Linked DNA regions of Homo sapiens: region 1 is linked to region 2. The links come from fine-mapping of genetic effects on gene expression. A gene starts in region 2. The other region holds a variant in brackets. All regions are shown on one strand. Distances are between the middles of the regions.

What was found.
Region 1: its variant is fine-mapped to the expression of EARS2 in whole blood (TOPMed, PIP above 0.99).

The regions. Positions count from the first base shown.
Region 1 is chr16:23,519,816-23,529,153 of GRCh38, reverse strand. EARS2 (glutamyl-tRNA synthetase 2, mitochondrial) reads left to right here. Exons shown (of 9, transcript NM_001083614.2): 8 at 3,775-3,910; 9 at 4,700-8,400. The coding sequence ends at 4,783. It also overlaps a transcript of GGA2 not described here. Among named protein-coding and RNA genes, the nearest start is that of GGA2, 14 kb to the right of the region's middle. The variant A/G (reference allele first, on the strand shown) is at 6,110.
Region 2 is chr16:23,548,199-23,564,038 of GRCh38, reverse strand. It overlaps EARS2 (glutamyl-tRNA synthetase 2, mitochondrial), which reads left to right and starts at 6,689. Exons shown (of 9, transcript NM_001083614.2): 1 at 6,689-6,834; 2 at 11,735-11,890. The coding sequence starts at 6,696. It overlaps UBFD1 (ubiquitin family domain containing 1), which reads right to left and starts at 6,312. Exons shown (of 7, transcript NM_019116.3): 1 at 6,272-6,312; 2 at 5,760-6,089; 3 at 4,363-4,571; 4 at 1,768-1,833; 5 at 1,309-1,414. The coding sequence starts at 6,296. RefSeq lists silencers at 5,890-6,069, 6,170-6,259 and enhancers at 5,427-6,070, 6,330-6,529, 6,071-6,715, 6,720-6,999, 7,360-8,004.

The DNA.
Region 1 (9,338 bases), 32 kb after region 2:
CTTACTGTAACAGTAATAACTTTCAATTACAAACGCAACCAAAGCTGGCTTAGGCAAGAGGGGAATAATTGCTTATGTAACTGTAGATGCTAGAAGAAGGGCTGCTTGAGGCACAGCTTAATGCAGGAGTCGGTACTCCATTACCAAGATTCGCTTTCGCTCTCTGCCTTTCCCCTTCTGCCCCTACTCGCCGATGCTGACCACTTTTCCTGCAGAGGCTGTGTATCAGGTAACTAGAGGGCAAGACTCTCTACCAGACAAAAGAAATGACAGCGCATGTCCTTTGTGGAAGTACATTTCTCCATTATGTAGCAATCTGCAGGAAGCAGCTCAGGGCTCATCCTCCCACCTCAGCCTCTTTAGAAACTGGGACTACAGGCACAAGCCACCACGCCCAACTAATTTTTTTATTTTTTGTAGAGACAAGGTCTTGCCATGTTGCCCAGGCTGGTCTCAAACTCCTAGGCTCAAGCAATCTTCACACCTCAGCCTCACAGAGTGCTGGGATTACAGGCGTGAGCCATAGTGCCTGGCCAGGGCCTATTAGTTCTAATTCACCAGGATTCAGTGTCGTAACTGCCTGTCTCCACCATGAGGTTGGGTTTTAGATTTGCTCTGGGACTCCCTCTCGAGTCAGGAAAGCTGATACCCAAATGTTCAGGAGCTGCCAGATCACTAGAAATCCTTTCTGTGCCTATGCCATGGTTCTTAACTCTGGGCCAGCTCTAGCAGGTCTGGAACTGCCATTGTTCCCGGCCTGGGGCCTGTCATTGTTTCATCAGCTCCTCGGCAGCCTGCTTCCCTGCAGTGCCATTGGGGAGAGTGTCTGCTTTTTTCCCACATTATATTTTTTGTCTTCAGTATTTCATCTCCTGATTTTTGTAAATAGCAGTACTCATGTGACCCAGTTAATAATTGTCTCAGTCCATGGGGTTGCTATAGCAAAATAACATAGACTGGTGGCTTCAACAACAGACATTTATTTCTCACAGATCTAGAGGCTAGAACTCCAGGGTCAAGGTGCCGCCGATTCAGTGTCTGGTGAGAGCCTTGTTCCTGGGCCCTTCCCTTTTCCAGCCCTTCGCTGCATCCTCACGTGGTGGAGGGACGAGGGACTCTCTGGGGTGTCTTTTATAAAGGCACTCATCTGTGCATAAGGGCTCGGCCTGCATGACCTGTTCACCTCCCAAAGCCCACACCTGTGAATACTGTCCCCTTGGGGGTTAAAATTTCAACATATGAATTTAGGGGAACACAAACATTCCGAACATAGAGATGATGCAGTAAGAACGATCATCCTTTGCTGGGCGCGGTGACTCACGCCTGTAATCCCAGCACTTTGTGAGGCCCAGGCGGGCCGATCACGAGGTCAGGAGATCAAGACCATCCTGGCTAACACGGTGAAACCCCGTCTCTACTAAAAATACAAAAATTTAGCCGGGTGTGGTGGTGGGCGCCTGTAGTCCCAGCTACTCGGAAGGCTGAGGCAGGAGAATGGCGTGAATCCGGGAGGCGGAGCTTGCAGTGAGCTGAGGTTGCACCACTGGACTCCAGCCTGGGCGACAGAGCAAGACTCTGTCTCAAAAAAAAAAAAAAAAAAAAAGAACGATCACTCTTGTCTGAAATTGAAACTCATCTGCTTCAGTGCTGACAGTTAGTAAGGAGATCTGTCTGCACTGAAAGGCTGCTTCTTCAAATCACTTATGAACCCAGTTCCCTGAGACAGTAGTGGTCCATACTGAGTTGACTTTGGAATGCAGTTGCCTGGACCATGTTTGAGCAGGCAGGGTCAGAACTGACATCACAGACCATCTGCACCAGAAAGATGTCCAGCCCCAGTTCCTCTTCAGTGTTTCCATGTTGGAATCTCCAGTAATAACTGAAGGGAGGCTGGACACTGTGGCTTGTACCTGTAATCCCAGTATTCTGGGAGGGTGAATGGGGAGGATCACTTGAAGCCAGGAGTTTGAGACCAGCCTGGGCAACATAGCTTGACCCCATCTCTACAAAAGGTAAAAATAAAATTAGCCAGGCATCGTGGTGGGTGCCTGTGGTCCAAGCTGCTCAGGCAGCTGAGGTGGGAGGATCGTTTGAGCCCAGGAGTTTGAGGCTGCAGTGAGCTGTGATTGCACCACTGCATTCCAGCCTAGGTGACAGAGCAAGATCCTGTCTTAAAAAAAAAATAATTAATTATTTTTAAAAACTGAGAGGAACTGGAAAGTTGCAGTGAAATATACTCATCCCCAGCCTATTCCCATCTCTTGACTAACTCAATCAGGGCCGAGGCAAATTTTTGTTAAGTCCACCTCTAACTGAATGGAGAATTTCTCCTGAAACAAAAGCTTTTGGGCAGAGCATCTTGCTCAGCTGGACTGCCAGGATGTGGGGGTTGGTTGCTGGCCCGCTGGAATCCTAGAGGCTTCAATTTGTGGAAGAATGGCCATAGCAAGTTGGTGGCAGAGCCATTGCTGGAGCTGGGTGGGGTCTTCTGATTTCTTCTCTTCTTGGCTACGTCTCCAAAGAAGTCTCTCTCTACCAATCTTAAAGCTGTATTTCAGATAATTTCCCAGAAATTATCCATTCTATGTCAAATCTATTCCTAAGTTTCTTTTTTGTTGTGCCTGCAAGCAGAACTGTTTCTTTTTAGATCCTTTTGTAATGTCTCAAAGCTCTTGATTGTACTTAACTAATTTTTAAAAATTTTAAATTCAAATACGAAATGTAATACTTGGCCGGGCATGGTGGCTCACGCCTATAATCCTGCCTATAATCCCAGCACTTTGGGAGGCCAAGGTGAGTGGATCACCTGAGGTCAGGTGTTTGAGACCGGCCTGATCAACATGGTAAAACCCTGTCTCTACTAAAAATACAAAATTAGCTGGGCGTGGTGGCACGTGCCTGTAATCCCAGCTACTCAGGAGGCTAAGGCAGGAGAATCGCTTGAACCTGGAACGTGGAGGTTGCAGTGAGCTGAGATCGTGCCATTGCACTCCAGCCTGGGCAACAGAGCGAGACTCCATCTCCAAAAAAAAAAAAAAAAAAAGGTAATATTTCTGAGTATTTATCATGTGTTCAGGCACTTGGTGCTTTATAAGTTTTAACTCTCTACGATAGCCTTGTGCAGGACAGATACTATTATTTTTTTTTTTTTATTTTGAAACAAAGTCTCGCTCTGTCACCCAGGCTGGAGTGCAATGGTGCAATCTCGGCTCACTGCAACCTCCTCCTCCCAGGTTCAAGCAATTCTTCTGCCTCAGCCTCCTGAGTAGCTGGGACTACAGGCACCCGCCACCATCCCTGGCTAATATTTTTGTATTTTTAGTAGAGATGGGGTTTTACCATGTTGGCCAGGTTGGTCTCGAACACCTGACCTCAAGTGATCTGCCTGCCTTGGCCTCCCAAAGTGCTGGGATTACAGGTGTGAGCCACTGCGCCAGCCTCAGATACTATTATTCTCCCCACTTTACAAATGAGAAAACTGAGGCATAAAGATTGCATGACACAGAGGTAGCAATGAGTAAAGCCTCTTATGGCACCTCTTACCTCCCTGCATTGTGACCACTGGCTTCTCTGTGTGTGGTCCCTTGGTGGTTTTTCCTTCCCGACCTGGATAAGGGAGAAAGTGGTCAATATCTTCCTCACCTCCCTCAAAACAGGCTTGAACATTGGTTGTGCTGCTCGTACTGTAGCTGATCAATAACCTTCTGAAGCCCTTCCTCCCACCCACTTGCCATTGGCCCATGCAGGCCCTGTAAACTGGCCCTCTTCTTCTAGGCTTCTAGAAAGATCTAGTATGAGCTTAACTCAGGATATGCTGAATGGAGAACTGAAGAAGCTATCAGAAGGTCTGGAAGGCACCAAGTACAGTAATGTGATGAAACTCCTTCGGATGGCCCTCAGTGGACAGCAGGTGAGGCAGGGACACGGGTTGGATTGTTCCCTGGAGCCCCTCATTGATCCTTTGAACTTACATTTCCTGGCAGGCACTGAGCTCAATATTGAGTATACAAAGGTGAATGAAACATGATCACTCCCCTCATTTAGTCAATCAACAGACACTATTGAGTACCTACTATGTGCAAGCATTGTGTTAGGTACAGTGAATACAATATAGAATTAAACACACATACATAATCTCTGCCTCCATGGGGTTTGCAGTTTATTGGGGATAACAGACCTAGCAACAGCTTACTTAATATGGGAAAATCAGGCCAGGCACGGTGGCTCACACCTGTATTCCCAGCACTTTGGGAGGCCTAGGCAGGTGGATCACCTGAGGTCAGGAGTTTGAGACCAGCCTGGGCAACATGGTGAAACCTTGTCTCTACTAAAAATACAAAAATTAGCTGGGGGTGGTGGTGCGCCTGTAATCCCAGCTACTTGGGAGGGTGAGGCACGAGAATTGCCTGAACCTGGGAGGCAGAGGTTGCAGTGAGCCAAGATCGCACCGTTGTATTCCAGCCTGGGTGATAGAGTGAGACTCTATCTCAAAAAAAAAAAAAAAAAAGGGCGGTGGTTGGAGGAGAAACAGGCTCTTAGGACCCATCCTTTTCCAGGGAAATAACACAAGCACTGATCCTCAGAACACAGGCAGCAGTGTGGGGGCTGGCCTGGGAATAATTTCTGCAGACTAAGGCTGAGCTTCAGTTCTTTAGGCTGTTTAAGGTAGTAAGGCAATATTTGCTCTTTTTGTTCTTAGCAAGGACCTCCTGTAGCTGAGATGATGTTGGCCTTGGGACCAAAGGAAGTACGGGAACGGATCCAGAAGGTGGTTTCCAGCTAGGGAGAGGATGTTTCGGGCAGTGGAGATCGCCCTAAGAACCTGTGAGCTTAGAAACAGCTTTCAGAGACCAGAAGGAGGCCTGGGGCCCGTCGGGAAGTTTGCTGAAGGAACTAAGAGTGGAAACAATCTCTGACTGCACACAAGTGCATTTGTGATCCACCACAGGCACGTTTTTGTCAATTGGCTGGGGAAGCCCAACCCATCTAACCTCCTGGACTCTGGAAAGGCATTCTCCGGGTCTGGTTTCTCACACATTACACAGCAGAGGTTTGGAGTTAGTTCACAGAAAAGTTAACATCCCGGAACAGTGCAGAAGGCTTGGGTTTCAGTTTGCTAGGGCCCCCATAACAAAATGCCACAGAACCAGGTGGTTTAAACAACAGAGATTTATTTTCTCACATTTGGAGGCTAGAAGTTCAAGATCAAGGTGTCAGCAGGCCTGGTTTTTCCTAGAGGCCTCTTTTGTTGGCTTGCAGACAGCTGTCTTCTCACTGTGTCCTTGTGCGGTCTTCCCTCCATGCACACACATCTCTAAGTTTCATTATGTGCCCAACGTTCCTCTTCTAAGAACACCAGTTGGACTGGATTTTAACTTTAACCAGCCTCATTTAAGTTAATCACCTCTTTAAATGCTCAATCTCCAAGTACAGTCTCATTCTGAGGTTCCAGGGGTTTCTCAACGTAAGAATTTAGGGGGACAGAATTCAGCCCGTAGCAGCTGGGCAGCAGGACTCATGGGTCCCAGTTCTCAGGCCCCAAGGACTCAGAGCAGCAAAGGATACGTGACACAAGCAGGGCTGAACTGGACACCAGACTTTCTTTGGGGTTGTAAAAGGAGAAGTGTGACTCCACTGCCAAGGGTAAGCACTCTTGTCTTATGCTACCCTTTATTCTTGAACCTTGGGGCAGCCTGTGTCTCCCTTCCCTAAACGTCATCTGTTCCGTTTTTCCAGTCTTCCAGACCTGGTCCTTGGACTGGAGACCTTCACCCTTCCTATTTTGTGGCTTTCTCTTCAAATCCACCTCGTCCTTCCTCCATGACTTATAAGTCATCATCTCTGCTGGTTTCTGAAATGAGATATGCTTCTTGGGGTCTTCAGTGAAGAGGAATAGCAAGTGAAAGGAGGATGGTGGCAGGGTACATGAACCCCTACCAGGCTTCTAGGCTTCCCCTGCATGGCAGCCAGCCTCTAAGTTGGCCCCCAACCATCCCTGCCTTCTTCTATTCACACCCTTGTGTGGTTCCTTCCCACATTGAATAGGCCTGACTTGTGTAACCACTACACTATTGAAGAAATGAGAGTTTGACTTCTGAGGGTAAGTCAT[A/G]AAATACATCGTGGCTTCTGTCTTGTTTTCTTTGATCGCTTACTTTGGGGGAAGCCAGCTTCCAGGTCATGAAAATACTCAAGCAGCCTTATGGAGTGCTCCACATGACAAGGGATCGAGGCCTCCCACCAATAGCCATGGGAGTGTGCAATCTTGAAAGCTGGTCCTTCAATTCCAGCCAAGCATTCACATGACCGCAATCCTAGCTGATCTCGCTTGTGACCTCTATGGGAGACCCTAAGCCAGAACCACTCAGAGAAGCTGCTCCGGAACGTCAGACACACATGAACTGTGAGATAGTAAACGTTTATTGTTTAAAGCTACTTGGTTTGGGGATAATTTGCGTTTCAGCAGTAGACAATATATTTATTTTGTCCAGGGGAGTGGAAAGGCGATTACAGAGTTTGTTGAGCCCCATAGAGTCCTAGTCTTTGCTTAAAGAAATATACCAGTTCTTTCTAATACAGAATCCATTAAGTTCGTTGGTTGCAAACAATAGAAACCAACTCTGCCTCACTTATGTTTATTGGAGGCCATAAGAGAGCCACAGCATCTACCAAAAAGCCAAAAAAAAAACAGGTTTTGGAAAAGACAGGAACTAGCTACAGGAGCTAATGGCCAATCTTGTCTGAGTTCTTTGATGGCGACACATGAACTACAGCCGTTTTGTTGTTGTTAATTTCTCCGTGTTTTCCCCTCAGTTTTGGATGACTCTGCTCAAGGTTCAGATTCTGAGGAGCAAGTATCTGTTGGGCTATCTGAGGTCCTGCTACCATTCCTTGGCCAGTAATAGGTAGTTTCACAGGGATTATATGCAATGGAGGAAAAGTTGTTCTCAAGGAAAACTAGGGAGCTTTCTCCAGAAGATGATGTAATGGCAGAAACAACAGGTGGTTGACCACAGAAGGGGACAATAATAATACTTGTAATTTATTGTGCGCTTATATGAGCCTCACCCTCTCCCAGGTGTCAGATAATGCTCGTAAATGCCTTAGTCCATCATCTCAGTAAATTTTTTTTATAACACTATGAGAGAAGCAGTATTTTTTTTTTCTGTTACAGATATGGAAACCGAGGTTCTGAAAAGTTAACTAAAACTTCCGAGGTTATAGTACGAGGCAAAACCAAGATTTAAACTCAGATCTGTGCCGATCCAGAGTCCAAGCTTAACTCTGATCTACTGAGTGTTGTCAGAGCATCTGTTTCTAAGACATTAAGAATGGTTAAAAGGAGCTTCTTGGCTCATGGTCAAGTGAGTGTTTTTAACAAAGTGAGTGGTCAAAATACTAAGTCGATTCTGGTATATCTACAACATGGATGAACCTCTAGGACTTCATGCTAAATGAAATGTCAGTCACAAAAGGACAAATACGTCCTAATGCTTTGTGAGGCAAAGGTGGTAGGCTTGTCAAAGGCCAGGAGTTTGGAGACCAGCCTGGGCAACATAGTGAGATCCTGTCTCTACAAAAAATTTAAAAATTAGCCAGGTGAGGTGACATATGCCTGTAGTCCCAGCTACTTGGGAGACTAAGGTAGGAGGATCACTTGAGCTGAGGCGTTAAGGCTGCAGTGAGCTATGAATGCACTACTGCACTCTAACCTGGGCAACAGAGCAAGATCCTGTGTCTAAAAAAAAAAAAATGAATAAAATAAAGTTAAAAGGATAGATACTGTAAGATTCTACTTATTTGAATTACTTAAAATAATCAAAATTATACAGGCAGAAAATAAGATGGTGGTTGTCAGACTTGGGGAGGCAGAAATGGGAAGTTACTGTTTAGGGTATAGAGTTTCAGTTTTGCAAGATGTAGTTACAGGGGTCAATGGTGGTGATAATTGCACAACATTATAAAGATACGTAATGCCGCTGAACTGTATATTTAAAAATGACTGAGATGGTAAATTTTATATTTTTCTGTATTTTACCACAGTTTTTAAAAAATACTAAATTAGAGCTGGGCCTGGTGGCTCACACCTAGAATCCCAACATTTTGGGAGGCCAAGGCAGGCAGATCACTTGAGGCCGGGAGTTCAAGACCAGCCTGGCCAACATGGTGAAACCCCATCTCTACTAAAAGTACAAAAATTAGCCAGGTGTGGTGGTACATACCTATAATCCCAGCTACTTGGGTGGCTGAGGCACAGGAATTACTTGAACCCCCACAGAACGGGAGGTTGCAGTGAGCCAAGATCACACCATTGTACTCCAGCCTGGGGAACAGAGCGACACTCTGTCTCAACAAGAAATTAATAAAAAAGCGAAATTAATAAAGCTGTTGCTACTTCCTCAAGTGAAGTGTGCTGTGCTATCTTGAAAGCAGCTCCAGACGTCTGTCTTCTGTTTGAGGGTTTTGCTCAGGATCAGTAAGACTTTTTTTTTTTTTTTTAAGAGGATGTTGCTCTGTTGCCTGCCCAGACTGGAGTGCAGTGGCACAATTATATTTCACTGTAGCTCTAACTCCTGGGCTCAAGAGATCCTCCTATCTCAGCCTCTTGAGTAGCTGGAATCACAGGTGCATGCCACCACACCTGGCTAAGTAAAAGTGTTTGAAGGAATTTCATACATTTTAAATAACCTCAAGCCCATCCCCAGTGTTTTGAGGGTATAGTGCAGCAGTGAAGGGCACAGAGGCTGTCTAGATTCAGAAACATTCTGCCCCTTATTCACATGTGACTTTCTGTACCTCAATTTTCTTGTTTGTAAAATAGGAATAAGAATTGTACCCATCTCAAAGAGTTGTAAGGATTGGAATAGATAACATATACGAAGTTCTTTTTTTTTTTTTTTTTTGAGACGTAGTTTCACTCTTGTTGCCCAGGCTGGCATGCAATGGCGTGATCTTGGCTCACTGAAACCTCCACTTCCCGGGTTCAAGTGGTTTTCCTGCCTCAGCCTCCCAAGTAGCTGGGATTACAGGCATGTGCCATGTGCCGCCATAGCCAGCTAATTTTGTATTTTTAGTAGAGACGGGGTTTCTCCATGTGGATCAGGCTGGTCTCAAACTGCCGACCTCAGGTGATCCGCCTGCCTCGGCCTCCCAAAGGGCTGGGATTACAGGCATGAGCCACCACGCCTGGCAACATATATGAAGTTCTTAGAACATTACATGGCATTTAATAAATGTTAGGTAACTATCACCATTATTTTCATCCTTAGAAACAGTGATCTTGGTGGCAATGCATAGAAACACACTCAGACTAACTGAAACCATGAAAGGAATTTATTGGA
Region 2 (15,840 bases):
CTAACAGGGGGACAGACAAGTCAGAGAGTAATGAGTGCTCTGGGGATATAAACGAAGCGCTCTATGAACAGAAGCGGCAGCAAGTCATTTGGAGGGTGGGGGGAGAATCAAGGAAGGCTTCATTCAGAGAGGACATTTAAGTAGGGCCTTGGAAGATTTTATTAATAACAAGGAATGGGAAAAAGGCATTCCAGGTAAGGGCACAGCATGAGCAAAGACAAGGAGCTGTGCAAAGCACACTGGGAGCTTCACAGAGAGATGCGGCTAAAATACACAGGGGACCACAGGGCAAACGGGCCAGAAGCTGGAACCAAAATTTAAACTAAGGCCCAGTGTTGAGAACACTGAACGCTATGGTTAGGCATTTGAATGTGTCCTTAAACAGCCAAAGGTCCTTGAGCACGGGTACCCAGGATAAAAAGCAGTAGGTAAGATGGACAGGACAGAAGAAAACACAGATGGGGCAGTGAAACAGGGTAACTCGCTTTGAACAGACCAAGTTTAAAGATGCTTGGGAACTTTAACTGGCACAACAGTGTGGCAAAGAAAGGGACAGACAGTTCTGCAGTGTAACTAACAAGACTTTGTAACCATCTGGGGGAAGGGAGAGGGAGGACAGTCAGAGACACTTCCCAGCAAACAGCAAGGCTGATCCAGACACCGTGCACAGGCGGGGGTGGGGCAGGCAGAGGGCAACCAGGCGGGGAGGGAGAGGCAGATTCCTCGGCAGCGGTTAGGAAAACTTCACCTACTATAGGGTCAAACTCTGACCTACAGGGGCCAGGCAGGTGACAAATGAACAAAGCTGGCTACTTCTAAGATAAATGGGACCATGAAGACTGTAGTATGGCCCACTGGAAACCACCACTCGGCTCTAGTGGATCGATGCCATGTGAGAATGCAGGCCCCAAAGGGCCAGATCATTTGAGTTTTCAAGAGAAGCCAAAAAAAAAAAAAAAATCAGATTAGTGAAATCTCCCAATTTTTACAGATTGTGTGTCATCCCACAAAACATTTTTCTGTGGACCAGATTTGGCCCTTGGGCCACGTGTTTGGGACCCCCAAATCTGTGTGCAACTGAAGAGCCACTGTTTGGTGGATCAGCCCTAAGATCAGACTGAAAACAATGAGGGAAAACGGTCCAAACAAAAGGCGAGCATCTAAAAGCAAATTTAAAAGCCAGAAGCAAGCAAAGCACAGTGGAGAGAGAGGTTTCAGAAGGAGGGGTGAAATCGCACTCTAAAATGTGAGTGCTGCTGGGTGCCAGAGGCAGGCAGTGGGCCAGCAAGGAGGCGAGGAAGAACATACCTTTAGTGCCAATCCACAGCTGGTCTTGTTCTAGTTTAAAGGTGAGTCTCACTTTTCCTCCAGATTTATTGTACATGCCGGACAGCGGTACCGTTGGCAGGCGCTCCTGAAGGCACGAGAGAATGGTAAGAGATGGAGGGACAGTCAGAAAAAAAGAGAAGGGGGCCAAGCGCGGTGGCTCACGCCTGTAATCCCAGCACACTGGGAGGCCAAAGCGGTCAGATCACCTGAGGTCAGGAGTTGGAGACTAGCCTGGGCAACATGGTAAAACCCCGTCTCTACTAAAAATACAAAAATTAGCCAGGTGTGGTGGCACACCCCAGCCTGGGTGACAGAGCAAGACTCTGTCTCAAAAAAAAAAAAACAGGGAAAAAAGAGAAGGGACAGGATTGGAGGAACCTCAAGTCAGACGGTGGGGCTGCCTCATTTTCAGAATGCTCACAAAGAAATCCGCCTTACCTGGGCCCCCTTAACAGATGGCATCACATCTTCAGGTTTTCCTTTATCCAACACTTTCCTGTGTTGCTATAAGTCAGAAGAGAGAATGAAATGAAACAGCTGACTACATTTCGTCGTGTTACTATTCCCTTGAAAGAGAGGATGAAGAAAGCCTTAGTGTTTTGGCTCAAAAGCTTTTAATGACGACAGACTATGGATCCTTTGAAACTATAGCACAGTGCTGTCCAGCAGAACTTTCTGGGAGGGCGAATATGTTCGTACCTGTGCTAGCCACTACCTACTGCTGTGACTATTACACACTTGAAATGCAGCTACTATGACTGAGGAACTGAATTCTTAATTTCATTTTAACCAGCCACATGTGGATAGCTACCATATTAGATATCAAAGTTCTACAGCAAACGGGATTTCCAGATTGCCCTCCTCCCCTCAAAAAAAAAAAAAAAAATCACCACTGAAATGATTAAACCATCAAACTAAAGAGGGCGACAAAGGGTGTTGCTCTCCTAGCAGACAAAAAATGGCACCCACCTTTTTCAACTTAAACTTCCAGAGAACACTATAAGATGCTGGTAATCCGTCTAACTGCCTAGGAGGAGCAGTTCTTCAACAAATGGAGACCCAGCCCATCGCCGAAGTTTTCCCCACTGCCCTACCCTTAACTCCAGCTAAACAGGAACCTGGAAGAGCCACCTTTCAGAAAGAAATGCTTATTACTCTATAACCTGACATTAAGAAGCCTCTAAACTCCACCCCTACCACCTGCCCCAAGAACTCTGAGGCAGCTCTTCAAGGATTCTAAGTTCAGGGCCCCTTAAACAGTTCTCCTGCCTGGCCCAAATGCCTGAGTCTTCTTTCTTCTCCATCTGTGGCCTTATAGGCATAGCCACTGCTTGGAAGGCTGGAACTAGGGGACAATGAATGGATAGAAGGTAACAATTTAATCAAATGTAAGCACTAGGCAGCCACAAGCCAGCCCAAATCCTCACTGGCATGGTGGAATCCCTCTGGGAGGAATAAACTCAGCACTGCCAGACTGCTAGCAAAAAGTCACTCCAGACATCACCCCCAGACCCCTTAATAAGCTGGTAAAAAGGCAAGGGACTATATCCCTCTCATTAGGTCATGTGATGCATCATAATTGGCCTCAATGAAACACAGCAGCATGGGCTGGAAGTACAATTCGAGTCACACCTTTCAAGTACCTTTTGAACAAGATTTCCTGTACTGTGGAGAACAGTTCTAAGCCTGTTAAGCTACCATTAGTAACTAAAAACCTGTATTTAGGAGGCATGTTATGCTCCAAGGGTGTGACCATTGCGACCACTCCTATCTGACGTGCTCACATTTCACTATTTCATACATGTGGCAAAGAAAAACAGGAATATGAGAAGAAACTCAATCGGTTTCAAGACACTGAGACCCCATATGTGGGGGTGAAGTCTCCAAATCAACACCTTTTAGATAATTAATATAGGTTTATAACCCCTTATCTGAAACCCTAGAGTTTTGAACTTTCAGGGTTTTGGAATTTTTATAAAGATAATATTGCTTTCAAATACATAACAATCTTCTCTGTGGGGTCTGGGGCAGTACCTTGTCACCAAAGAGGAAAATTCACACTAATTCTGGTCAGGTTTTGCTGTTAAATTTATAAAAACACTTCTCGTTTTTATACTCCTTTGGGGTTTTGGAAGCACACATGGGGGATTATGGATCTGTAACACAAACTGTGTCCTTTTCTTACTGTTGGTCATATATCTTAGTGTCTATGGTCACTAAATGATGTTGATTGAAGTTTATCTACTCTACTTCAGACACAGTTGAGAATACCTGTCTTCCTTGGAACACTAGGAAGAACGATCAGGAGGCTACACAGCAATCAGTATAATTTGCCAGGTAAAAAGATAACAAGTAATGATTCTTACAACCTGTTCCTTCCATAGTAAAATAATCTCACTTTTCCTCGTTACGTGAAAGAATGTTAATGGCTATGATGAGCACAAGACAAGGCAGGATCTCTTGCAGCCAAAAGAACAGAGAACGTAAAAAACCAAGCTCCTATTTCACAGATCAGGACAAAAAAATAAATAAACAAATCCATCAGTGTAGTTGTCTTCCTACTCAGCTTCATTTAGCTTCCTGAAACGGTCAGCTTTAGGGGAACCTCCGAGAGTTGTTGATTTCCATGCCTAGCCAGGCTTGTTGACTTGGGGAAAGCCACAAACCAAAAAGCCAAATGTAAGCACTTGTACAAAATGAGGGCTTACTTCTAGTACTGGTAGTTTTCTCTGGCACTAAATAAGAGAGAGAAACCCACGTCTGATTCCTTTCAACACATGGTCTGAAGCCTCCCTTTACCAAGGTCTTATCCTAAAGTAGGTAGACTTGAGACACACTGACCCGCCAGATGAGACAAAGTTGCAAATCTCAGGTAGTTGTCACCTCCACTCTGCGGCACCCAACTGCTGCCATAAATTTCCATCATGGGCCCTGTCCAAAAAGGAGCTTATTCTAGGGAGAATATAACCAGCCACGGCTCAAGAGGACAAAGCCTCAAATTTCTCAAGACCAAGAAGCACAAGATGGACTCACTTTCTGCCTGCAGAGAGGCTCCTTCTTGTTCTCTTCGGCCTTTGCATCCTGCTGCGCAGCATCTTTGGGTGTGTTTACTGCTAAAACATCATTGATGGTGGAGCCAACCACCATGATCTTGGCCCCACTGGTCACTTTTATTTCTCTCAATGTTTTATCCTCGGGGACGAGTCCCTTATACATGACTTTCTGCATGGCAGGCGGGAGACCTTGGGAAAAGGTAGAAGGTGGACAGTGAAAGGAAGGAAGGACAGAAAAATGTATGGATACTACACAGCTCTTTGGTAACAGACCAAAAAGTGAATACTGCCTCCACCACCTATTAGCTTTGTGAACTTGGGAGATTTACAACCTCTGAACCTCAGTTTCTAGAACTGTAGAAGATTTATTAGAGTAAGTCCTTCTGTACAGACCTGTTTCAAGGATTAAGAGACCAATGCGGGGCATTTAGTACGGTGGCTAGCATTGAATAATTGTTCAGTAAGTACTAGCTCTCATTCTTTCCAAGTTGTTCCTCAGTCATCTAAATCATTCACATATTAAGTGAGAATCCACAGGCATCAGAGCTACAGAAGCCAATAGGGACAAAACTCCTGTTCTTAATGGAGATTACAAGGCTACATGTAGAAAGCTTTAAAAAAAAAAAAAAGTTCAAGGCCAGGAGTGATGGCTTATGCCTGTAATCCCAGCACTTCGGGAGGCCGAGGTGGGTGGATAAAATAAAAAAAACTAGCCCGGCGGGGTAGCGGGCACCTGTAATCCCAGCTACTCGGGAGGCTGAGGCAGGAGAATCGCTTGAACCTGGGAGGCGGAGGCTGCAGTGAGCCAAGATGGTGCCAGTACACTCCAGCCTGGGCAACAGAGCAAGACTCCGTCTCAAAAAAAAAAAAAAATAGGAAAAAGAAAAGAAATCTCAGATGGCAAAGAGCTATGAACAAGGTAAAATTAAGAAACAGAATCGACTGTGAAGAACCAGCATCAAAGTCAATAGCAGCGTTTCCTAAACTTCACTTAGAAGAATTACCTAAGATATTTGCTAAAAATAAATTCCTGGCTACATCCCAGACCCACTGAATCAGAATCTCCTGGGAAAGGGCCCAGAAGCTGTAAAACAAGCGCCTTAGGTGATTTTTTAATTAGAGATGTTAGAGCAACATCAATGAGAAACTGGGGCCTAAACGTCAGACTTCGGCTTTAATCCCAGCTCTGCAACTTACTAGCTCTATAAACTTGAGTCTCTTTCCCCAGCTGAGTAATGGGCATCCAAGTATCCTTCAGAAGACTGCTGTAAGGATGGGGGGACCTGATGCAAGGAAAGCCACCAGGTGCCTAGTAGGGTGCAAGGGCCATCAGGAGGCGGGGTGGGGAAGACTGGCTGTCAGCGCCACAGGAATTACCTGTAATCGAGTGGATCTTCTGTTTCAGCTCGGAGCCTGTGCTGTCCAGGGGGAACTTCACGTCATGCTTGGTCTTATTCCAGATGATCTTCAAGTCCACCAGCTCCCTGCCCGCGCCGCCGCCCGCGTCTTCGCCGTTGCTGACCGAGGCCTGGGCTGCGGGGTCCCCAGGGGGCTGGGCCGGGGCCGGCTGCAGGCTGCCTCGTGCGGCGCCGGAGTCCTCGGCCGCCGCCCCCGCCGCGGCTTCAGCCTCCAGGCAGTTGACGGGCCGCGCGGGAGCCTCAGTAGCCACAGTCTCGGCCTCCGTGTCCATGCCAGGTTCCTCCATGCCTGCAAGGGGGTTAGGGGGTGGGCGCTCGCCGCGGGCTGGGCTTGGGAACGGACGCTGTCCGGGCGCCGCCGGACCTCCGTTCCCGAGCCGCGGTTCTCCCTCCCGGGCCGGGCCGCATCCCCCAGAGGAGCGACCGCAACCTCAGCCCCGGCCCGGCGCCCGCCACCCCCGCCGCACTCACCATCCGGGGCCCCGGCCGCCGCCATGATGATTGTGTACAACACCCACCGCTCCCGCAGAGGCCGCTGGGAAGAGGCGAGCTGGCTGAGATTGGCCCCCGCAGCAGCCCCTAATCTCTCACAGCCCGGCCGGAAACAGGTGGAGGTTTCTATGGAGACCCGCCTCCTCCGCTCCCAGGTCCGGCCCCTGCCACGCTTTCGCTTTCCCAAGCTGAAGGGGGCGGGTCCGGGAAATAGCCCTTTCTCTGGCCTCTGCCCCCTGGTGGCGAGTGCGGCCGCAGCCGTCCAGGGGGGCGTGGGATTTCGCGCTAGGGGGCCTGTGACTTTAAGGGGCAAGGCTGCGCTGGCTGTGGCGGAGGCCGATTGGCTGGAAGCAGTCCCCGGAAGTGACGCAGGGAGAAGCCCACGTGTGCTATTCCATCCCACATGGCGGCGCTCCTGAGGAGACTGCTGCAGCGCGAGAGGCCTTCGGCGGCCTCTGGCCGCCCCGTAGGACGGCGCGAGGCCAACCTGGGCACTGATGCCGGGGTTGCGGTGCGAGTGCGGTTCGCTCCCAGCCCCACAGGTAACCCTGGCGGACGTGACGCTACAGGCCGAGGCCCCCTGTCCCGTCTCCGCCCCACGAATGTTCCCGAATGAATCCTTTCCGGTGGTGTCAGAGTGGGCGGGCGGAGGAGGGTTAAGGCAGCGCGAGCCCATTTTACAGAGGCGGAAACTGAGGTGCAGGAGCGGAAATAATTCAAATTGCCAGGAGTTTCTTGTGTTTTTTGTGCCATCCCATCTCTTTCGATCTTTTTTTCATGCATTCCATACATGTGCATTGATGACAACCTGTGTAACAGGTGTTGTAGACGCTGGGATACAGTGATCATTGAGAAAGGTAGGGGCCTTGCTCTGTGGAAGTCTGCATTCTAGTGGCTGCCGCAGACACTTATAAAAAATAAGTGTAATTTTAGAGTCACATGTGCCATGCGGGAAGTGAAACAGGATAGGAGACTGGGGATTAAGAAGGACGCTCCAGAAGGCTTTACTGAGCAGGTAACATTTGAGCTGAGATCCAAATGACAAGAAGGAGCACGCTATGTGAAGCCTATAGAAGGAACCTTCTGGAGGCCAGGCGCGGTGGCTCACGCTTGTAATCCCAGCACTTTGGGAGGCAGAGGTGGGTGCATCACTTGAGGTCAAGTGGATCACTTGAGAGCCGTCTGACCAACATGGTGAAGCCCTGTCTCTACTAAAAATACAAAATTATCTGGGCATGGTGGCGCATGCCTGTAATCCCAGCTACTTGGGAGGCTGAGGCAGGAGAATCGCTTGAACGCAGGAGGTGGAGATTGCGGTGAGCCAAGATCGCGCCATTGCACTCCAGCCTGGGCAACAAGAGCGAAACTGTGTCTCAAAAACAAAAAAGAAGGAACCTTCTGGGTAGAGGAAATCGCAGGTACCAAGGCACTGTGCTAGTGCTGTTGGGAGCTTAGCAAGCTAGAGGGTGACAGAGGCCCATTGTATAGCCTGTTGGAGATCTCGTCAGGGCCTTTTGGTTCCCACCAGTAAGGCTACCTTCTACGTTCTCTACACGGAGTATGCCTCTCATCCCAAATCCCAGGATGAACATACAAAGATCTTTGTAGTAAAATCCCAGCTATACATGACAGGATCTTTCTGGCAGGCAGTATAGCCTAGAGCAGTGCCTTTCAAACCATCTGTTGTGGAAGTGCTGGTTTTAAATTTCCAATCAATTGTGTATCAATATTTGCACAAAATTAATATAATGACCAGAAAAATAAAATTTTGAAAACATCCAAAATACAAACCAATCTCATTTTATTTGGGTTAGCAGAGGTAAAATCATTCTGCCAGATTGCTATGTAAGTTTCGCCTGGCCAATATGGCAAAACCTTGTCTCTACTAAAATACAAAAATTAGCCGGGCATGTGGCCCAGGCCTGTAATCCCAGCTACTCAGGAGGCTGAAAATCGTTTGAACCCAGGAGAAAGAGGTTGCAGTGAGCCGAGATCGTGCCACCGCACTGCAGCCCGGGTGACAGAGTGAGACTCCATCTCAAAACAACAACAAAAGTTTCTAAACCTTTACTCTCAGTTTCTGTACTTGATTGTGAACTGACAACTGTTTTCAGACCAGCACTGGATTGCACACTTTGCTTTGAAGAGCACTTATGTAGAATGCCAAAGCCTGGGATTGCCTGGGTCCAAATTTCTGTCGTGGCCACTTATTAGATGTGTAACTTACTAGATGTGCAAATTATTATTGTTATTTTGAGACAGGGTTTGGCTCTGTCTGTCGTCCAGGCTGGAGTGCAGTGGTGCAATCTCGGCTCACTGCAACCTCAGCCTCCGGGGCTCAAGTGATCCTCCCACCTCAACCTCCCGAGTAGCTGGGACTACAAGTGTGTGACCACTACGCCCAGCTAATTTTTGTATTTTCTTGTAGAGATGGGGTTTTGCCATGTTGCCTGGGCGGATCTTGAACTCCTGAGCTCAAGTGATCCACCTGCCTTGGCCTCCGAAAGTGCTGGGATTATAGGTGTGAGCCATCACACCTGGCCTAGATGTGCAAATTATTTAATGAATCTGAGCCTCAGTTTCACCATTTGTCAAAACGGGGCTAATAATAATATCTGTCTTATGGGGTTAAGCTCATGCAGCCGAACCACTTAGTAAGGTCTAGTACACCCAGAAAGCACTTAATACACAGCCTCTATTATGATGATTGTACTTCTCATTTCCTTGCTCATTTGCGGGGAAAGCCCATGTGGGAAAGGCTTTTGACTATAAACAGATAAAAGAATTATCAGGCACAGATCATTACAGTAGCTGAAATTAATTGAGGGTTTACTTTGGTCAGCATTTAGACCTCAGAGCAACCCTATAATAAAGAAGGTTCTTATTTTTTTGCTCTTAATCCCTCTGACAGATGAGGAAATAGAAGCTCATAAAAGTTAAGTAGAGTTCCTTCTCAAGGGGTAGCAACTAATAAATGGTGGATGCAGAATTTGAATCCAGGTGTACTTGATGTAAGAGGCTTTGTTTTCAGCAGCTGGGTTCCTCTTTTGTCTTGGGGACTCGTGGGACTCAGTGCCACTGAATACCACTGGTTTTCTGGTGTCCTTGCAGTAACTATCCGAAGGTTACACACATCAGTGTTGAAGCAGGGTCGGCCTGGCCCCAGAAGAGCTTTTTCTCTCCTCTGCTGCCTCTTGTACTTGTAAATGTAGATGAGCTCATTGTGGAGACTTAGGGCTGTGGGCTGGTCCGAAGAAGGTACGGTAAGAGGTAATGACAACTCTGGAAAAGCTGTTAACTTTCAGTTTTCAGACAGGAATGATGAAAAAGGCAAATCTTAGGAGTTTAAACTGATGAAGAGAAATACAGTGGAATCAAACACTACTTTTGGTTAGTGTTTAAAGCCAGCAATTAGGGTGAAAATCTTGGCAAGGCATGGTGGCTCATGCCAGTAATCCCAGCACTTTGGGAGGCTGAAGTGTAAGGATTGCTTGAGCCCAGGAGTTTGAGACCAGCCTGGGCAACATAGTGAGACCTTGCCTCTGCAAAAAAAAAACCAAAAAACAAATATTAGCCGGGCATGGTGGTGTACACTTGTAGTTCCAGCTACTTGGGAGGCTGACGTGGGAGGATTGATTGAGCCTGGGTGGTTGAGGCTGCAGTGAGCCGTGACTGTACCACTGGACTTCAGCCTGGGCAAGAGTGAGACCCCATCTCAAATTTCAAAAATGAATTTTGTTTCTTTAAAAAAGTAAAAATCTCAAGTAGATGAAATTTAAAATGTACGACGTGGACAGTCATGCACACTGCATAGACTGCATATGCAAAATGTGATTTTTTTTTTTTTTTTGGAGATGGAGTCTCGCCCTGTCGCCCAGGCTGGAGTGCAATGGTGCGATCTCGGCTCACTGCAACCTCTGTCTCCTGGGTTCAAGCAGTTCTCCTGCCTCAACCTCCCAAGTAGCTGGGATTACAGGCGCCCACCACCATGCCCAGCTAATTTTTTTTGTGGTATTTTTAGTAGAGACGGGGTTTCAACATGTTGGCCAGGCTGGCCTCAAACTCCTGACTTTGTGATCCACCCGCCTCGGCCTCCCAAAGTGCTGGGATTAAAGGTGTGAGCCACCATGCCCCACCGATTTTTTTTTTCTTTGTAGAGACAGGATCTCACAATGTTGCCCAGGCTGGTCTCAAATTTAGAGACCCAGGTGATCCTCGTGCCTCTGCCTCCAAAAGTGCTGGGATTAGAGGTGTGAGCTACTGCACCTGGCCCACAATATGATTGTACAGTATTTTAAATTTCTAGTTTGTTTGTAATTAATTTTTTTCCCAGCGCACATCATTGAATTTCTGTAAGTTAAATGTACATGATATGGCCTCAATGAATAACTCTCTGCTTCTCTTTCAGGCGAAACTTGGCCTTGAGACAAATATCAAAATAGAGTGGTGGATGCAGTTGGGGAAAATTGGAGCCTTTTAATAAAATGACATGCTCCAAATCCTGGGTGGTTTCCATTTTCAGGATGAGGGATTAAATGTGTCTGGAGACAGGGCACAGGGGTAACTAGTTCTTAGTCTTTGAAAAAAAATTTTTTAATTTTTAATTTTTTTTGTTTGAGACAGAGTCTCACTCTACTGCTGCCCAGGCTGGAGTGCAGAGGCGTGATCATGGCTCGCTGCAGCCTCAGCGTCCCCAGGCTCAGGTGATCCTCCCACCTCAGTAACTGAAACCACAGGCATGTACCACCATGCCCAGCTAAATTTTTATATTTTTTGCTAAGACAAGGTCTCACCATGTTGCCCAGGCAGATCTCAAACTCAGGCCAAGCACAATGGCTCACGCTTGTAATCCCAGCACTTTGGGAAGCCAAGGCAGATGGATCACTTGAGGTCAGGAGTTCGAGATCAGCCTGACCACCATGGCAAAATCCTATCTTTACTAAAAATACAAAAATTGGCCAGGTGTGATGGCTCTTGCCTGTGATCCCAGCACTTGGGAGGCCGAGGCTGGGGGGATCACTTGAGGCCAGGAGTTCAAGACCAGCCTTGCCAACATGGCGAATGCCTGTCTCTACCAAAAATACAAACATGTAGCTGGACGTGGTGGCACACACCTGTAATCCCAGCTACTCGGGAGGCTGGGCATGAGAATTGCTTAAACACAAGAGGCAGAGGTTGCAGTGAGCCAAGACTGTGCCACTGCACTCCAGCTTGGGTGACAGAGTGAGACTCTTGTCTTAAAAAACCTACAGGAACCTCCTGGGCTCAAGTGATCCCCCCGGCCTTGGCCTCCCAAAGTGGTAGGATTACAGGCGTGAGCCAATGTGTCCTGCTGGTCTTTTAAATTTATTGCAACATTCTGTCACAGTAGTGCTTACTTGCCCCTTGCTGAGGCCTATTAGCTTATCTTCCCTGTCTTATCTGAGCTGTTCTCTTCTCCAGGCTTCTTGCACCTGGGTGGCCTCCGCACTGCCTTGTACAACTACATCTTTGCTAAGAAGTACCAGGGGAGCTTCATCCTGAGGCTAGAGGACACAGATCAGACTCGCGTTGTGCCTGGGGCAGCGGAGAATATTGAGGACATGCTGGAGTGGGCAGGTAAGCCTGGCAGAGAAAGGATCTTTCTGCAGGGAAGGAACAGGAAGCAGGAAAAGGAGCCTGTGGGTCTTCTCATGGAGTTCTGAGTGGAAAATGGGGAGTTCCTGGAGAAGTGGCTACATTTGTACTGCCCTGCCCGGGGTGGCAGATGACACCTGAAAAAATGCCGAAGCTCTCTGAAACACAGCTCCAAGACTGGTTTCTTTATTTTTATTTATTTATTGTTTTTGAGACAGAGTCTTGCTCTGTTGCCCAGGCTGGAGTGCAGTGGTGCGATCTCGGCTCACTGCAAGCTCCGCCTTCCGGGTTCACGCCATTCTTCTGCCTCAGCCTCCAAGTAGCTGGAACTACAGGCGCCCGCCACCACGCCCGGCTAAGTTTTTTTGTATTTTTAGTAGAGACGGGGTTTCACTGTGTTAGCAAGGATGATCTTGACCTCCTGACCTCGTGATCCACCTGCCTCGACCTCCCAAAGTGCTGGGATTATAGGCATGAGCCACCGCGCCCAACTTGGTTTCTTTATTTTTTAATTTTTTAGAGTCAGGGTCTCATTTTGTTACCCAGGCTAGAGTTCCATGGCACAATCATAACTTACTGTAGCCTCGACCTGGGCTCAAGTGATCCTCCACCTTAGCCTCCCAAGTAGTTGGGACTACAGGCACGCACCACCACGCCTGGCTAATTTTTAATTTTTTTGTAGAGATGAGATCTCACTGTGTTGCCCAAGCTATTCTCAAACTCCTGGGCTCAAGCAATCCTCCTGCTACAGCCTCCCAAAGAGCTGGGATTACAGGTGTGAGCCACTGCCAAGGCTGTTTTGAGATTCCTGTTTTCACCTCAGAATCTCAAGTTCATTCCCTACAGGGGCCAGGCAGGAAACACAGGGCCAAGTGGGAACTGGAGGAGCTGGGCCAGTGCTGAGCTGTGAAAACCACACCTCATCCAGAGTTGGGAGTGCCTCTGAGCTCCAGCTCCTTGTGCCCATGCGGGAATGCTGGCCCAGCTTGTCCAATCCTCTGAGTTGCAAGAGGAGCCAGAAATCCAGTTTTTCTGGATGAATACTTAACCATTATTAAATCTGGGCTCAGATTTTTTTTAACCATGTTGTATAAGCCACACAAAACACGTACAGCTTCTGAAGTTGATCTTGTGGGAAGTTTTATCCTGAGGACAGCTAAGGTCAGGGAGAACAAAGAGGAGTGTGTTTCCTTTTCATGGGTCGACAGTTGTCTACCTGTATGGACGGGTGTGACTAGGAAAGGGGAGATTCCCAAGGAAAAATACCAAGACTCTGCTAGTCTAGAGATTGAAAAAAAAAGAAAGAAAAACCCCAAGACTATTTTGAGATGTGTGTTCTAATCTCAGGTAAATTACTCACTAAACTCTGGATTCCTAAAGAGTATAAAATGGTTGGCCGGGCGTGGTGGCTCACGCCTGTAATCCCAAAACTTTGGGAGGCCGAGGCTGGTGCATCACGAGGTCAGGAGATCGAGACCATCCTGGCTAACATAGTGAAACCCCATCTCTACTAAAAATACAAAAAATTAGCCAGGCGTGGTGGCGGGTGCCTGTAGTCTCAGCTACTCAGGAGGCTGAGGCAGGAGAATGGCGTGAACCCGGAAGGCGGAGCTTGCAGTGAGCCGAGATTGCATCACTGCACTCCAGCCTGGGTGACAGAGTGAGACTCTGTCTCAAAAAAAAAAAAAAAAAAAAGACCATGTGCTTAGTGCCAAGGGAAAAGACAGATGAGTGGATTAATTATTTCTTTTTTTTTTTTTTTAACAAACAAAATCTTGCTCTGTTGCCCAGGCTAGAGCGCAGTGGTTCAAACACAGCTCACTGTAATCTCAAATTCCTGAGCTCAAGGGATCCTCTCACCTTAGCCTCCTGGGTAGCTGGCACCATAGCTGTGTGCCACCATGCCCAGCTAATTTTATTAACTTATGTTTTTGTAGAGGTAGGGTCTTGCTATGTTGCCCAGGCTGCTGTTGAACCCCTGACCTCAAGTTAATTCTCCTGCCTCGGCCTCCCAAAGTGCTGGCATCACGGTCATGAACCATCGCTCCTGGCTCCTAATTCATTCTTCATAGGATACTAAATGATAATAACCAGTATGGAGAAAAGAGTAACAGGCTTAGAAACTAGGGCGAGGGATGCCCTTGTAGATAGGGCAGTTTTCTCTTAGGAGGTGATGCTGGAGCAGAGACCTGCATGAAGTGAGGAGCCAGCCCCGTGGTGACCTGGGGGAAGAATGTTCAAAGCAAAAAGAATAGCCAATGCAGAGGCCCCACAGCAGGAGTGTTCTAGATGTATTTGAGGAGCATCAAAAAGACCAGCTTGGTCTAACCATAGTGAGCAGAATGACCAGGGATGTGAGGATAGAAGGCTTGCCAGGTCGGGCACAGGGGTACACGCCTGGAATCCCAGCACTTTGGGAGGCCAAGAAGAGAGGATCACTTGGACCCAGGAGTCCAAGACCAACCTGGGCCACATAGTGAGACCTCATCTCTACAAAAAATTACCCAGGTGTAGTGGTGCACTCTTATAGTCCCAGCTACTTGGGAGGCTGAGGTGGGAGCATCACCTGAGCCTGGGGAAGTTGAGGTTGAGGCTGCAGTGAGCTGTGATCATGTTACAGAATTCCTTCAGTGCCACTTTGCCAGCCAGAAATCTCTGCAGCTGCCCTCACCTCTGTCGGGGCCTCGCTTGGGCCTTCTGGGCCCATTTGGCCCAGCAGGCTGCACTTGGCTCATGCCCACTTGGATCCCACACCTGCCATGGCTCCACACTCAGCCCATGGCTGGACTGGGTGTGCCACGAGTGGCTTCTGTGTTGGGTGCTGGCATCTAGATGAGGGGAACATGGTGGCACCCAAAAACTTGGGAAATACCATCAGTTGTGGAGCTCCAAGGGGTGTTATAGCTCTTGTTTGGGGAGTCCTGAGATCTGAGTCCCCAGCACTGTCTCAGCTCTTCACTCCTGTAGCTTGGTGAGTGGGAGCGTGTTACAGCTCTCTTTCTCCTGTAGTCTGGTGAGCGGGAGCGTGTTACAGCTCTTTTATTCCCGTCACCCGCAGCTTGGCGAGTTTTGGGTTCTTGTCCTGCAACCAAGAGGAATGAGGTGTGCAGGTACCATAGAGTGAGTAAGGCAGAGAAGAATTTTATTGAATGACAGAAGGGAAACTCTCCACTGCGAGAGGGGACCCTGAAAGTGGTAGCCATCTGTGAGGCTGAGTCTATCATTTTTATGGGCTTAGAATGGGGGCATGCCTGCCGATTGGTCCATGAGTGGTCTTGGAAAAAGGACCATTCAGTTGGTTAAAACATCATCCGGAAGGAACCAATCGAGAGAGTGGGTGAGACAGGGAAACAAGTTCTCACTCCAGTCATGGACTCTATCCTGACTTGACAGTTTGGTTTTCAGGCTGTCTTTGGCTTAGAAGTCAGATTTCACCAGGGACCTGTCCCTGACTGCCTAGGAATTTGTCTGTCTCCTGTCAGTCATGCCATTACACTCCAGCCTGGAGCGACAGTGTGAGACCCTGTCTCAAAAAAAAAAGGCTTTCCAGGAGCCAGATTACATGGTGCCTCACAGACCAAGATGAAGGCTTCAGTTTCACAGAGGATCTGCTACTTATCAGGTACCACGCCAGGCATGAGGGATACAGTGATGAACAACGGTGATGGTGGCGGGTCCCACCCTCGTGGAATTCCTGGGGCAGCATCATTGTGAGAATGAGGCTTGCAGCCCAGAGCTTGTCCCCCACCCTGGTGTTTTGGCGAGGCAGAGGGCAGGTATTCAGGCACCTCATGGTGGCTGACTTCTGGAGCACCTTACTTTGGGAGTCATTCTTTCTTTTTTAATTTTTTTCATTTTATTTATTTATTTATTTATTTATTTATTTATTTATTTATTGAGATGGAGTCTCGCTCTGTCGCCCAGGCTGGAGT